Homo sapiens: one gene and its partner. The gene in region 1 interacts genetically with each later gene. Each region holds a gene or a part of one and is shown in the gene's direction. Other genes may lie near its edges.

Region 1 (3,816 bases):
AGATGCTGTGTTATATGCTAAGCACTTGGTCAGGTCAAGTCTGAATATATATTGTCATACCAGCAACATCATCATTGTTATGCATATACCAGTATGCTTGTGGTGGCAATTAGTTCTCTTGTCAATCTTCAGCAGGTCTTCCTGGCATCTCCATTGCGCTATTGCTTTTTGGCAGCTTTAAATGATAGCACTGATCCTGCTTATGCTCTACCTCTCACTACATTATACTCTGTATCAGTTCTAGACTTTGGGTTATGTTAAGCCTGCATTCAGAACCTCATATCCTTGCTAAAGTCATATGGATATAGACTGCAAACCTTTGTAAATAACAAATCTTATGTGAGGTGCAGTGGGCATGTGACGCTCAGGATTTATCTGGTATAGATTCTTCCAATGCCAGGTGTATTGGTGAGCACACATAGTGGTTGTGTCATTAGAATAGTCAGTGCTTCTTGACCTTCCATTATTTGCAGTTACAAATAAAGTTGAGTACATAGTCTTGACAATTGAGGATCTTACGATTAAATGGAATATCTAATATGTATTAGATATTTTGTTCTTCCTTTAAAACCGTAAATGACTTCAGCTATATAGAGATGTGCACATGCAGAGGAGAAGAGTTTAGTGAGTGTCTTGAGTAAGTGGAGAGAACTTCAAGAAAGAGTTGGTTTTAAAAGAAATACTTACAAAGTGGTAGGGACTTGAAGAGGGTATTCTCTAGAATTCTGCATGAAATTACTCAAGCAGGCCTGACTTTTAGTATTTGCTTTTTGTAGATTTTTTCAGGTCTGTTGGTCAATCTCACAACCATTGCATCTTGGCTGTCATGGCTTCAGTACTTCAGCATTCCACGATATGGATTTACGGTATGTCTTCCTTGTCTGTCACTGTGACTGCATTCCCAAGCTAGGAACAATGGAAATCAAGTGTCCTCATCTCATTTCCCTGACCATGAGCTGTGAAAGTCTCCCATCCAGAAACTCCCTTTTAGGAGCAAGGAATGAGAATTTCCTGTTAGCCTTGGTTAACACAAGGCTGGGGAGTCATTTGCTATTTTCCTCAGTCATCCTTTAAAGGGCTAGGGGAGATACCTCCTAGTAAAGGAGAAAGATTGGCTAATTGATGAAAAACACATTGTTGCATTTCAGTTCAATAAGGAAGTAAATGAGAGGATGGGACACTAGAATACATATGTTTATAATGAAAGGAAAATTAGAAGAGCAAAGACCATATAATAAGCATAGTCATATTGGCTTTTGCAAGCTCATTAACTCCAAAGTAAACTATCTGTGTCTTAATATAGTATAACCAAGCTTCTAACATCCAAGAATTACAACTGGTTCTAATGAAAACAAACAAGAACGAAAGATTGTCACTGTAAATTAACAATACTCATTGAGCACCACTGTATCATTTTAATTAGAATGTTTATGGAGTTACAAAATTGGGGAGAGAAGGAGGAAGGAGCTATGGTGTAGTATAGCCAGAGGTCTCCCGCTTTGGCAAAATACTTTACTTCTTTTGTATTGGAAGCCAAAATCCCAACCCTAGGTTTCTTGATTGCCAGGGAAAATAACATTAGTTGGTTTGGTGAGACAAAGACTGTGAATATGTTTTTAGAAATAACAATAAAGATTAAACTCAGAGGGCATGATTGTGATAACTCTTTGGAAACTTCTTGAAATTTAAAACTGTTTACCTTGCCCTGCTCCCACTTGTGTTATAGGCTTTGCAGCATAATGAATTTTTGGGACAAAACTTCTGCCCAGGACTCAATGCAACAGGAAACAATCCTTGTAACTATGCAACGTAAGTTTTTGTTCAGTGTCAAAATGGGTTTTGTTACTACCATGGTGTGATGTATAAAGGCTACTGGGCTTAGATCTGTATGAGTCCTTCCAGGGGCACTGAATTTTTCCGAGCCTACGTTTTCTCATCCATAAAGTGAGTTGTGCGCGAATGCATGTGAACATGTGGCACAACCCCTCAGTATTCTGCTGCAGTAAAAATTGTCTTTAACATGCAGCAATGTTTCTTACGTTTGTTTCTTATTGTTTTGGGCCTTTTAAAAGATCCTTTTGATATTTTGATTGTGGGTTTGAATTCTTGGTTTTCAGAGCATTTGAGATTGAAGTGAGGTGCTTTGATATTTTATCAAGGGCTTATGGTTCCTGAACTGTATGGATTATATGAAATCTATGGGTCCCTGAACTCACGGATACTTCTGAGCCCAACCCACGGACAGTAGTAAGAATGAAATAGGCAGCAATAGCACAAAGAAAGTAAACATTTCCCTGCCAAGATCCTGGCACTTCCACTGCCTCATGCATTTGGAAGACATCATGAAATCAAAGGCCGCATAGTCATGTGTTGTTGTTTTTAAATTAACTTGGAATACTCCCTATCAATCGATTTATCCTCTAAAAAAACAAGAAACACTTGAATAAGTTGAGAAAAAAACCCCGTTTTCACATAATGTTAAAACAGATTCTAATAACACTGGATAATATTGTTTTAAGAATTTAGTAACACGTGCCTTTTCTATGATTGCTAATGGTTTGATTTTGATACATAAATTAATGAGAGAAAAGAGAATGTTGATATTATCCTCAATCTCCTGAATGTTCAAGTAGAATATAAATAATTCTGAATAACAGGACAAATTACTCTTTTGAATTGTCCACAGGAAATCCTCTGTACAGAGAGGTTTTCTTTATTCTGTCCCTCTCTTTTGGCTTGATCAGGGTGGTCAGGATGAAGTGGATGGGAAAAATGGGACCAGATAAGGAGGAACCACCATGGGCTTCATGGTAACGGAAGATGAGGCTTCATCCTCAGTAGACAAAGGAGGAAGATATTCCTTTTTTTTTTTTTTTTTTTTTGAAATGGAGTCTCGCTCTGTCACCGAGGCTGGAGTGCAGTGGCACGATGTCCGCTCACTGCAAGCTCCACCTCCCGGGTTGACGCCATTCTCCTGCCTCAGCCTCCTGAGTAGCTGGGATTACAGGTGCCCACCACCACACCTGGCTAATTTTTTGTATTTTTAGTAGAGATGGAGTTTCACCATGTTAGCCAGGATGGTCTCGTCTCCTGACCTCGTGATCCACCTGCCTTGGCCTCCCAAAGTGCTGGGATTACAGGCATGAGCCACTGCAGCCGGCCAGGAGGAAGCTATTCTTATAGTAAAAGAGAGGCTATGTATGTTTTTGGAATTGCTGAATTCCCAAGAGTTGCACAAAAATGGTATCAGGCAGTAACTGTGGCTGTCCAAGGTCTTTTTAGTACAAGATGATTTCCTAACCTGTGGCAAGGAGTTCATCCTACTCTACTCTAGCTGCCACTTAAGGCTTAAACCTGATAGCTGAGTCTGCTGGGAATGTCTTGTACCTGAGTATCTGTGATGCTCCTCACAGTCTTGGTGCAAGAGCTGACAGAACATGACTTTGGCAGGAAACCCATGCACACCTCTTTTCCTGGTTTTGGAATTCTTAACCTGTGTTGTTTTTTATGGCTATTTGTAAGCGTAAAGAGTACTGTAAGAGCTTTGATCATCTTAGTAAGGGTCACAGGTGTCATCTGTTTAAGCAGATATTTTCTTTATCAGGGATAAGGGAACTATTACTTGATAAATATTTCTGCCCTTTGGAGAGAGCAGCATTACAGATTTGGAAACCAATAAATTTGAGTAGGCTAAAAACTTGGTGATTCAAAGTATGACTCTGTAAACCTGGTCAAGTTCCTTAAACGTTAGTCCCCTCATCTTTTAAGTGTGTACAATGTCTATCACATTGGATTGTTTTAGGAATTAACTAAGTT
Region 2 (3,816 bases), on another chromosome or scaffold:
CGGGGTTGTCCGCACGTCTCCCTGTAGTGCAGGTGCTCCTTCCTGTTTCCAATTAGCCTGTGGGATGGGACTTGGAAGCTGTGTCTGTTCTGCTCCCCTGGCAACTTTTTCTTCAATGACTTGAGCTGGTGTTTTGCCATTTTCCATACTCTATCATGGGGAGTGTTCAGTATCGGCATCTAGAGATCTCCCCTGGCCCCATCACAGCTAGAGCTATGCTGTCCCCTTTCAGGGACATCTTGTAATTTATCCACCCAGCCCCCAACTGATGGACATAAAGGCTGTCTCCCCATCATCTCCTGCTACTACAGACAGCACTGCAGGGACTGTCCTGCTGTGTTTTTTTAAGGCATGGGTACTCCAGAAGCAGTTGCTCAGCTGCACCCCCAAGGTTGAGTGGAAGTCCCTCGGTAAAGGAGGAGGAGAGAGTGTGAAGGGAATGGCAAGGCGGGGAGGGAGACAGGGCACAGGTGTCCTGGCAACAGCAGATGGGAAACAGGTCTGGCTAAGGTACCAGAAGCCAACAAGTCCCAGAAAGGTCAAGTGACTTTCCCAAGGTCACACAGCAAGTTGATGGCAGAGCTGGGTACAGGACTCAGAGCATCTGACACCCAGGACGATGTTCCTGCACTGTTCCATAGAGTAGCCCGACTCTTAAGTTTAAATAACCCCAGGAAGGACCCCCTCTCTGTGCCTGACCCCCGCTGGGTTGTAGAGGCCTAAGTTTGCAGTAGCTCCTCCCAGCCACTCTGGCTGTCAGCCTCTGACCTGCAGTGGGAGGGTCTCACCTTCTGGAGATGTTTTAAGGAGGGGACCCCGGCCTAGGCACTAGCTGGGAAGCCACTGAGCCATCTTGTCTGCGGCCACTGACGTCAGTGCTTGGGCACAATGCCAGCCTGTTCCCGGGACCCCAGCACAAGGGCTACTGGGAGCCGGGTTTGGGGCAGGAAGTCAGCGTGAAGCACTGGTCCTGCCACATCCCAAGCCCCTTGTCCCCTAGCTCTGTGGGGGTGGGGTGACAGCTGCTATCGCTTTGGGGTTAACTATAGTCCCTTTGGGGTTAACTATAGTCCCATTGGTTATGGGACCTCAGTGTGATGTAGCCAGGCTGGATTCCCCCTTTTGTTTGTTCATTTATTCATTCATTCAGGGGTCTCATGACCCCACCAGGGAGGAGCCGTCCAAGAGAGTTAGCAGCTCCCACTTGCAAGATGTCTGTGGCAAGGCAGGCACTGTTCTGGTGCTGAGAGCTCAACTCCAGTCCTCACAGCAGCCCCCAGAGCCAAGGAGTATCACCAGTCCATTGCACAGATGGGGAAGCTGGGTTCTAGAGTCACAGCCAGCAGAGTAAAGGTGATGAGTTTAGCCCTCTTCCCTGTTTCCAGACCCTCTGAGGCCTTCAGAGCCCAGCTCCTTGAGGCAGCCCACCCCGACCGCTCCTAGGCTTACCCTTCCCTGAGCACCGCCCCTGTGCCCCTCATAGCTGCTTCTGCCTCCTCCCTCCTCCCTCCTCTCCCTTGCCCCTAGGCTAGTGTGGTCCCCATGGCAACTCCTGGGGCCTGTCCGGCAGGGAGGCACGGGGCTATGGGGAGGGCTGGCTCAGCAGCTCAGGAGTTTGACACCTGAGGGGGACAGAATGCTCACTCAAGGTGTGGCCCTAGGGACCCCCGCCTTGCCCCTGTGGGCCTCACTTGGGGTTCTCATCTGCAAAATGGGGATAATAATAGCTTCTCTGTCTCAGAGTTGTTAGAGGATGTGATGAGCCATAACGTGCCAAGGACAGGGCCTGGCACAGAATAAGTGCTCAGAAAACAGGGCCTGTTATTATTTTTATTATTATAATCAAGGCAGTGGGGAGGCGGCGGTGGCAGTAGCTGTAGGCCAGGAAGGGAGTGTTTGCAAACTGACAGCTGGAAGGGTGACTAACAGCGCAGCAGCCTCCGCGCCCCCCTGTGGTGGCAGGGAGTTTGGGGAGGAAGGGGGAGGCATGGGGATGTGGAATGCTAGCAGGGCCCCTATTCAGAAGGACCTAAAGGTTGGGGGCCCAGCCAGCCCTAGTGGGACCCTAATTCAAGCTCTGTCACCCCTAACTAGCTATGTGACTTCAGGCAAATTGTTCAACCAGTTGAGCCTCAGTTTCCGCTTCTGTGAAATGGGGGTAAGAGGGTTAGAAGAGCTCACAATCCTCCTTCCCTCCCCGCCACCCCCACCCCCACAGCTTACAGTCCACAGGAGGCAGGGGCAAGGGGTCCTCACCACCCCCACCCTCACAGCTTACAGTCCACAGGAGGCAGGGGCAAGGGGTCCCCGCCACCCCCACCCTCACAGCTTACAGTCCACAGGAGGCAGGGGCAAGGGGTCCCCGCCACCCCCACCCCCACAGCTTACAGTCCACAGGAGGCAGGGGTAAGGGGTCCCCGCCACCCCCACCCCCACAGCTTACAGTCCACAGGAGGCAGGGGCAAGGGGTCCCCGCCACCCCCACCCTCACAGCTTACAGTCCACAGGAGGCAGGGGCAAGGGATGGTTCCTGTACTTAGTGGTGACTGAGTCATGTGGATGGAGGCAGGTTTCAGGCTCATCCTCCTTGGGCCTCAGTGTCCCTGCCTAAACAGCAGGATTGATGGCCTGGCCTCTGGGGATAGAAAGGGCCCTGTATTCTGGGAGGAACGGAAGCTCTTTCATCCAGGGGATGGGGCAGGGGCGCACCAGACATTTCCAAGTTCAGGGTTTCATTCCAGCCCCTCCTCAGCCAGCTTGCAGGAGATACCTGTCCTCCCCTTCAGGGTAAGCAAGACTTAGAAGGGTTGAGTCACTCACCCCAAGTCGCACAGTCAACAGAGCCAGGTATTAAGCCCAGGCCTGACTATAGAGCCAGGTGTGCGGCCTGGAAGTGTTGGTTCTCCCTGGCCGTCTCCTCCCCAGCTCCTTCTGCTCTCCATGATCACATGCCCCCCTGCTGAGGCCCCATCGCCCTTGGAGTCAAACCCTGGTTCCTCACATTGGCAGTGGAAGTCCCCCTGCTGCCTGGCAGAGTTTATGCCAGGCCCACTTGAAACCATCCCCTACAGTGTCCCCTGAGCAGCGGTGCTCAAGGTGGACTCTGGAAGTGTGTGGGGTCCTAGAGCCCCAGATGGGCAGGGTCTGCCTTCCCGCTTCCCTCACCATCGGCTTCCACCTGGGCCAGTTTCTCATACTATGCCAGTCCCCTGCCTGACACCTTTGCTCAGACTGCTGCATCAACCTGGGGTGCCTTCCCTGGCCCGCCCTCTGCCTGTGTAAGCCCTGCAATCTTCAGGGCTCAGCCCCAGAGCTCCCTCCTCCAGGGAGCCTGTCTGAGCTCTGCAGTCCGTGCCTACTTCACACCCCCAGCACTTTGCACTAAAATGTCTTCTCCCGCGCCACTGCACTCCAGCCTGGGCAACAGAGCAAGACTCCGTCGCAATAATAACAATAATAATAAAATAAAATGTCTCCTTCCACTGGGGTAGGTAGCAATATTTGTGACTGTCAGCCTAGCCCCCAGACCTCATCCACTGTATCAAAGAGCCCAGCAAAGAGGCTCATGGAGGAGTTTCTCTTCTAACACACTGTGACCACGAAGATGCCACTGGCCCTTTCTCACCCTCAGTTTCCTCACCCGTAGAAAGGAAACAGTAGTTCCAGCCCCTCTGCTTCCTGAGACAGGTCCAAGGGGGCTCTGGGCTGGGATTACAAAGTATGTGTGTGCAGACGGGTGGGTTGCTGCTCTCAGGGAATGGGGTTGGCTAGGGTAGCTTTTTTGGGGAGTCAACTTTATTGAAGTAAATATACGGT

Evidence for each region.
Region 2: changes in ABCG2 (region 1) and CSK are lethal when combined (synthetic lethality), as found in Homo sapiens cells (one large-scale study listed by BioGRID).

What each region holds. Positions count from the first base shown.
Region 1 is NC_000004.12:88,092,570-88,096,385, reverse strand, and holds part of ABCG2 (broad substrate specificity ATP-binding cassette transporter ABCG2), read left to right. Parts: intron 1-776; coding exon 777-866; intron 867-1,726; coding exon 1,727-1,809; intron 1,810-3,816.
Region 2 is NC_000015.10:74,791,896-74,795,711, forward strand, and holds part of CSK (tyrosine-protein kinase CSK), read left to right. Parts: intron 1-1,150; exon of another isoform or gene 1,151-1,353; intron 1,354-3,816. UniProt on the Homo sapiens protein: Non-receptor tyrosine-protein kinase that plays an important role in the regulation of cell growth, differentiation, migration and immune response.